Regions from separate parts of the Homo sapiens genome. Here region 1 is reported to be linked to region 2. Evidence: microRNA targets listed by miRTarBase, many of them from high-throughput screens and not tested one by one. Region 2 holds a microRNA gene; the other region holds the end of a gene's coding sequence.
The links. The annotated mature microRNA hsa-miR-6872-3p reads CCCAUGCCUCCUGCCGCGGUC and lies in region 2 at 1,478-1,498, shown strand. An mRNA with a match to its seed (bases 2 to 7 or 8) in the 3' UTR can be bound and repressed. Matches are read on the target gene's strand: a 7mer-m8 pairs with bases 2 to 8, a 7mer-A1 pairs with bases 2 to 7 and ends in A, and an 8mer does both.

Region 1: miRTarBase lists CD36 as a target of hsa-miR-6872-3p. The part of its 3' UTR that is shown has no 7-base or 8-base seed match.

Annotation. Positions count from the first base shown.
Region 1 is chr7:80,673,779-80,677,188 of GRCh38, reverse strand. CD36 (CD36 molecule (CD36 blood group)) reads right to left here. Exons shown (of 15, transcript NM_001001548.3): 14 at 3,042-3,206; 15 at 1-805. The coding sequence ends at 3,042. Among named protein-coding and RNA genes, the nearest start is that of CD36, 37 kb to the right of the region's middle.
Region 2 is chr3:50,271,798-50,275,207 of GRCh38, forward strand. MIR6872 (microRNA 6872) reads left to right here and starts at 1,439; the gene lies at 1,439-1,500. It overlaps SEMA3B (semaphorin 3B), which reads left to right. Exons shown (of 17, transcript NM_001290060.2): 7 at 1,501-1,646; 8 at 1,738-1,849; 9 at 1,962-2,031; 10 at 2,116-2,260; 11 at 2,566-2,785; 12 at 3,046-3,137; 13 at 3,215-3,256. RefSeq lists enhancers at 1,378-1,577, 1,556-2,079.

The DNA of each region.
Region 1 (3,410 bases), not on the chromosome of region 2:
TTCTTCATCCAATTAGCTTAAAAAATTAGCCTAGAACAAAGTGGTAGAAATTTAGAAAGCATATTTCAGCAAGGACTATGGATTTATAAAGAAATGTGGATTCAGATAAAATATACTTCAGAGAGAAAATTAGGATAAACATTTTATGACACAAGAGGAACTAGAAAAAGCACAGGAATTTAAGGAAGAACATATTTTAATGGTTGAAACCTGTCTTTATGAGGCGATTATGACAGCAAAAAATATTATAATGAATAACAATGCATAGTCTACGCTTTGTAATATTTCATACAATAATTCCTTTATCATTTACATCTCTTAATGCTAGAAAAGCATTCTGAAGATGCCAAGCGTAAGTTGCAACTGAGTAAAAAAAAAAAAGCAAAATTTACTCAATTTCCAGAAGAGGTGCAGAACAGAGAATGAAGGTCCTTAAAATATAAACCGCTAGTGTGCTAAAATGATGTCCATTTGCAGGATCAGTGACAAAATATTTAAGCCCATAAAGAAAAGAGTTATACCTGCTGTATGAAGGTATTCATAGAGAAATATGAGTCATAAGCCAATTATTTATAAATGTCTTTCAAAATATTTGGTGCACATGAAATGCAGTATACTGATGGTCCTGGAGACTGTTGCAGTTGAATAGGGCAGCTACTGGGATGATGGTGTTTCCCCCGGATGAGGATGACAGGAATGCAGGGCCTAGGATTTGTTGAGCATGTACACTCTTCTTCTGAATTGGCCACCCAGAAACCAATTATTGAATCAGAACAACACAAATTGGTTTGTGCTTGAGCCAGGTCTGTAGAAACGGAAATCAATTCAGTTGTGGAAATGATGAATTTTAAAAGCTGCTGGGTTTTTTTTTGTGCAAGGTAGAGATTTTCATAACATCTCAATAATCCTTTTGAAATGTGCAGTTGCTTAGTGCAAAAAAAGAAATAGTGCCACCATTTCTTCAACTAAAAGATAAGGTGTGCTTTGTAAAAGTAAAGCATATCCAATTTTCATCCTGTTGGTCGGTATTACCAAGGGTCATGATGTAGCTGGCGCACAAATGTGAAGAATCATTTACTACCTGTAGAGTGGCAGTATATCTTAGATATCATACTTTTTATTAATCAGTTCAGTTTCTCTAGCTGCAGAGAGAAGTTCTCTAACGGACTTCACCAATAGGGCAAAACACATTCCCATTCCAGAAAGGCACATAAGAAGGGTGCTTCAAGACAAGCACACACCAGGCAAGGAACGGTAGCTGAAGTGCATCTGCCCTGGACCAGCATTTCCACACCCTTCAGACCAAGTTCCATTTAAAGGTGTATGTACTACTTTCAAAAGGACCATTGGGTTATTTTCTTGTGACCCCCTGAGTAAAACCACACATTAAAGCTCCACCGTCTTACACTTTGCTACTTCTTACATACCTGTCTTCTTACTTGTTCCTATTGTTTACAAATCTGCCCAAAGATATAATTTTTATGATATTAAGAGCTGAATTTTGCTTAAGAAAATCTACATATCTTTTGTGATTCTTCTAAATCTAGTAAATCAAGTAATCAACAGTTTATTCTCTGCTTGTAAAAAAGGGTAGTAATTTTTCCACATAAAAATCAAATATATAAGCAAAACTAATATATTTGTTGACAAAGTTGCTCCAGCAAGCCTTGAATTTTTCATTATAATTTAGCTATAAATAGACCCAAGGAATCTGACATCCAAGGATCATTAAGCAATCATAAAAATGTATCACATAATTTTAATTCTGAATACTTACTTACAAAACATGTTTATAACTTCTGCATTTCCTTTTATTAAGCATGCTTTCCCATTAGGACAAGTTTTTTTGTTATTTTGTTTTACTTTTCAGCGGATGATCTATTACATAGTCATACAAATACCTTTGTTTAGTCATAATTTGTCAGTAGGCTACTGACAGGTATTGAAGGTAATATTTAACTTTTTATAATGTGAACATTTTAGGCTAGCATTTTGAAGCCATTCTGTCCAAATAGTTTGGATGCAGAATTATTGTCTTTTTGGTGACTAAATAGTGGTAGAAGTGATTAGAACCAAAAATTAGGTTGCCTTTTCAAACACAAGCTCTCCATCTCACAAAAGGAAATTATTGGTCCCCAAATTCCACTTTCACTGATTTATGCTTTGGTCACAAACAATTAAAATGTATGATTTCATGGAACATCTCTAGAAGATAGAATGGATGCTGATGAATCCAGGCTATTGGAAAATCATGAAATTGTATTAGGGATCATGTGAGATAAAGAATCTTTCTTTAGCATGGTACTGGCACACAGTAAACAACTAAATAAGTTATTATAACACACATACTGCTTTTATTTACATTGCCTTGAGGTGGGCTGAAGAAAAATAGGGAGAAAGTAAAAAATTCTCCCCCACAGGCAACACCAATGTTACCTGTGATAACTAAAAAAAGGTTTTCCTTTAGGAAAGGTCAGGCATTCATTCATCTTTAAGAGTGCATGGACACTAATATCTAAAGCATAGAGGCCTAAACTCTTGTACACCACTCTGAGTACTTGGTTCTACTATGTTGAACACTATTTTCCCCTATTTCCTGATACTATTATATTCAAATTTTTGTTCAGGACTTTTCTGGATTTGGAAAATGCACGGCCAGCATGTCTACATGCAGCAATCCTGGTCTTATGAAACCATTTCCTAGTCAATTATTTTTAAGTATCAGATAATATATAACTAGCTATATAATTGAGAAATGAACCAGTCAATTTTGGACAACTTTGGCACAAGTGCTTTATTTGTGCTATTGTTACAATGGTCACAAGTACATCTTTTATCTCATTTCTCCCAGAATTAAAGATATACTTTAGTGATCTGCGTGATAATATTTATAGGTTTATTTACCTATATTTAAAAATGATCAGTGGCTAGACATGTCTAGAAATATATATGGCCTAATATGTAACTTCTCTTTGATAAAGTGAAAACAAGTAATATATAAGCTAATATTATTGAAGCAATATTTTTTGGTACATACTTACTTATTTTATTGTTTTCGATCTGCATGCACAATATGAAATCATAAAAGCAACAAACATCACCACACCAACACTGAGTAAGATCATTTCTATCAGGCCAAGGAGGTTTATTTTTCCAGTTACTTGACTTCTGAACATGTTTGCCTTCTCATCACCAATGGTCCCAGTCTGTAATCAAGTTAATAATCAACATTATTTGGGTACGTTAGTAAAACAAAATAAACCCTTCAATTGCCTATCACCCTTTTTTCTAACACCTCTATTGGTGTTAGTCATCAGTATCTATAAGGCAAGTTAATGGAATTCCTTTTGCAAGTCAAGAAAGGCAATTAAGTGCCAGATAGAGTACGGTACTCTTCAATGTACTAGGAT
Region 2 (3,410 bases):
ATTCCCAAGCACAAGACAGCTAGCCAGCAAAATTTAGGGATGAGCATTCCAGGCAGAGGGAGCATTCCAGGCAGAGGGAGCAACTAGTGCAAAGGCCTGGATGCAAGAACAAGCAAAGGAATAGACTTGCAGAGCTAGCAATGAAAAGGGGGCCTGGACTGTCAGGGGCCAGAGTCATTTATTCTAAGAGTCATGGGGGCTGGGCACAATGGCTTGCACCTGTAATCCCAGCACTTTGGGAGGCTGAGGCAGACAGATTGCTTGAAGACAGGAGTTTCATACCAGCCTGGGCTACAAAGCAAGACAAAAAATAAAATAAAATTAGCTGGGGGCAGTGGCATGCACACACCTGTAGTCCTGGCTAGTCAGGAGGCTGAGATGGAAGGATCACTTGAGCCCAGGAGTTGGAGGCTGCAGTGAGCCATGATGCTGCCACTGCAGGACAGAGCAGACCCTGTCTCTAAATCAAATAAAAATTAAATAAGGGCTATGGGCTGGTGGGCACAGTGGCTCACACCTGTAATCTCAGCACTTTGGGAGGCGGAGGCAGGCAAATCGCTTGAGGCCAGGAGTTTGAGACTAGCCTGGCCAACATGGTGAAACCCTGTCTCTACTAAAAAATACAAAAATTGGCCGGGTGCAGTGGTGTGCACCTGTAATCCCAGCACTTTGGGAGGCTGAGGCGGGCGGATCACCTGAGTTCAGGCATTTGAGACCAGCCTGGCCAACATGGTGTAACCCCGTCTCTACTAAATATACAAAAATTAGTCCGGCATGATGGTGTGCATCTGTAATCCCAGCTACTCAGGAGGCTGAGGCAGGAGAATCGCTTGAACCTAGGAGGCGGAGGTTGCAGTGAATGGAGACTGTGCCACTGCATTCCAGCCTGGGCAATAGAGCGAGACTTCGTCTCAAAAAAAAAAAAAAAAGCCAGGTGTGGTGGTAGGCTCTGACTGTAATCTCAGCTACTTGGGAGGCTGAGGTTGCAGTGAGCCGAGATCGAGCACTCCAGCCTGGGCGACAGAGCGAGACTGTCTCAAAAAATAAATAAATAAACAAATAATAATAATAATAATAATAATAAAGAGCAATGGGACCCAGCAGAAGGATTTGAAGCAGGAGTGGGGAGCATCTGGTTATGCTAGAGAGGAAGATTCATGAGTGAAGGTGAAACCAGATTACCTCATCTCCCTCCTACCCCAGCCTAAGGTGCTGGGCGACGTGTGGGGCGAGATCGGAGGCTAGCCGGGCTTCACGCCTGCGCCCCCAGGTAGCCACGGTCTCTGCTGCCCCCTCGCGGCTGCTTCTTGCCTCGCAGGCCCTGATCCTTTGGATTCGGTCCGCGCAGAGCGCCAACTGGACATGGTGCTAGAGGTTGGGTGGTCAGACACTGTGATCCCGGGTGCTGTGCCCGCACTACGGGAAGGGGAAGCAGCGCGTGGGTCTCGCATCAGGAGGCAAGGCCAGGACCCGCTGACCCATGCCTCCTGCCGCGGTCAGAGCCCAAGTTTGTCAAGGTATTTTGGATCCCGGAGAGCGAGAACCCAGACGACGACAAAATCTACTTCTTCTTTCGTGAGACGGCGGTAGAGGCGGCGCCGGCACTGGGACGCCTGTCCGTGTCCCGCGTTGGCCAGATCTGCCGGGTGAGGAGTCCCTGGGCCACACCCGGCGACCCTGCCCCTACCCCTTTGCCTGCCCTGGTCTCGCCCTCATCCCCTTTGATCGTCCCGGCAGAACGACGTGGGCGGCCAGCGCAGCCTGGTCAACAAGTGGACGACGTTCCTGAAGGCGCGGCTGGTGTGCTCGGTGCCCGGCGTCGAGGGCGACACCCACTTCGATCAGCTCCGTGAGTGCGGGAGTGGGTATGGGGTTGGGGAGGGGGGCAGCGGCGCAGACTCCGGGAGCCCCCGCCGCAGCGGGGCTGTGCGCCCTACCCCAGCTAGGCCCCTTCCCCGCAGAGGATGTGTTTCTGTTGTCCTCGCGGGACCACCGGACCCCGCTGCTCTATGCCGTCTTCTCCACGTCCAGGTGAGGGGCAGGAGGTAGGGAGCGCCCGGGGCGGGCCGCTGGGCTCCACCCGGCCCCTCACCTCGCCCTGGTCTTCGCCTCCAGCAGCATCTTCCAGGGCTCTGCGGTGTGCGTGTACAGCATGAACGACGTGCGCCGGGCCTTCTTGGGACCCTTTGCACACAAGGAGGGGCCCATGCACCAGTGGGTGTCATACCAGGGTCGCGTCCCCTACCCGCGGCCAGGCATGGTTCGTAGCCCAGGGACTTCTGCTACAACCCACTTCAAAGCCTCAAGGGTTTGAGAACTTGGCCTGGGGTCTTCTTGGTGAATGTGGTTTCTTCCTTTAGTTATGGGTGGGAAAACGTTTCCATCATAAGACAAGGCTTGTTTCCCGCCTCTGACTTCCTAGGGCAAGGCTGATCTCCTCTCTAATTCTCAGGGCAGGGTTCTGTCCCCATCCCCCTCCATGTTCCCAGAGGCTGGGCATGGAGGGCTGCCTATCAAGCCCCCATATCTATATCCCTGCTGTGCCTCCCTTTCCCCCACCCCCAGTGCCCCAGCAAGACCTTTGGCACCTTCAGTTCCACCAAGGACTTCCCAGACGATGTCATCCAGTTTGCGCGGAACCACCCCCTCATGTACAACTCTGTCCTGCCCACTGGGGGGCGCCCTCTTTTCCTACAAGTTGGAGCCAATTACACCTTCACTCAAATTGCCGCGGACCGGGTTGCAGCCGCTGACGGACACTATGACGTCCTCTTCATTGGCACAGGTCAGGGTCCCTCCACAGCGACCCCCAGGCTCCCAGCCAGGCCCTGTGGGCTGCTGATGGAAGCTCTCCCTGTTCAGTCCCATCTCCACATCCTTTCCTGGGCTGTGTCTCCACCCTGTGGATGCTGCCCAACCCACACTCTTCCAGTCCACACTCTTCACAACCCAAACATGCTGAGGGTAGACGCCTCAAAGGCGAGGAGACACTAGCCCCAGCTGTCCGGGAGCACCAATGGTCATTACCCCTTCTCATCCCTGCAGACGTTGGCACGGTGCTGAAGGTGATCTCGGTCCCCAAGGGCAGTAGGCCCAGCGCAGAGGGGCTGCTCCTGGAGGAGCTGCACGTGTTTGAGGTGAGGCCTCACCCCCAGTCGCCCGGGACCCCCCCACCCCACTAAGCCCTGACCCCGTCGCCCCTCCTCCCTCTCAGGACTCGGCCGCTGTCACCAGCATGCAAATTTCTTCCAAGAGGGTGAGTGACCAGGATGGGGGTCGGGGTGGGATGGACTGAGCTTGTGCCTGGCGCGTCCCAAGCCTCTGGCCCCTTTTGGTAGTTTGCAGTCCCGGGTTTGAGTACAGGCTCTGGCTTTGTTAGACTGTGTGACCTGAGGCGTAAGACCTCAGTG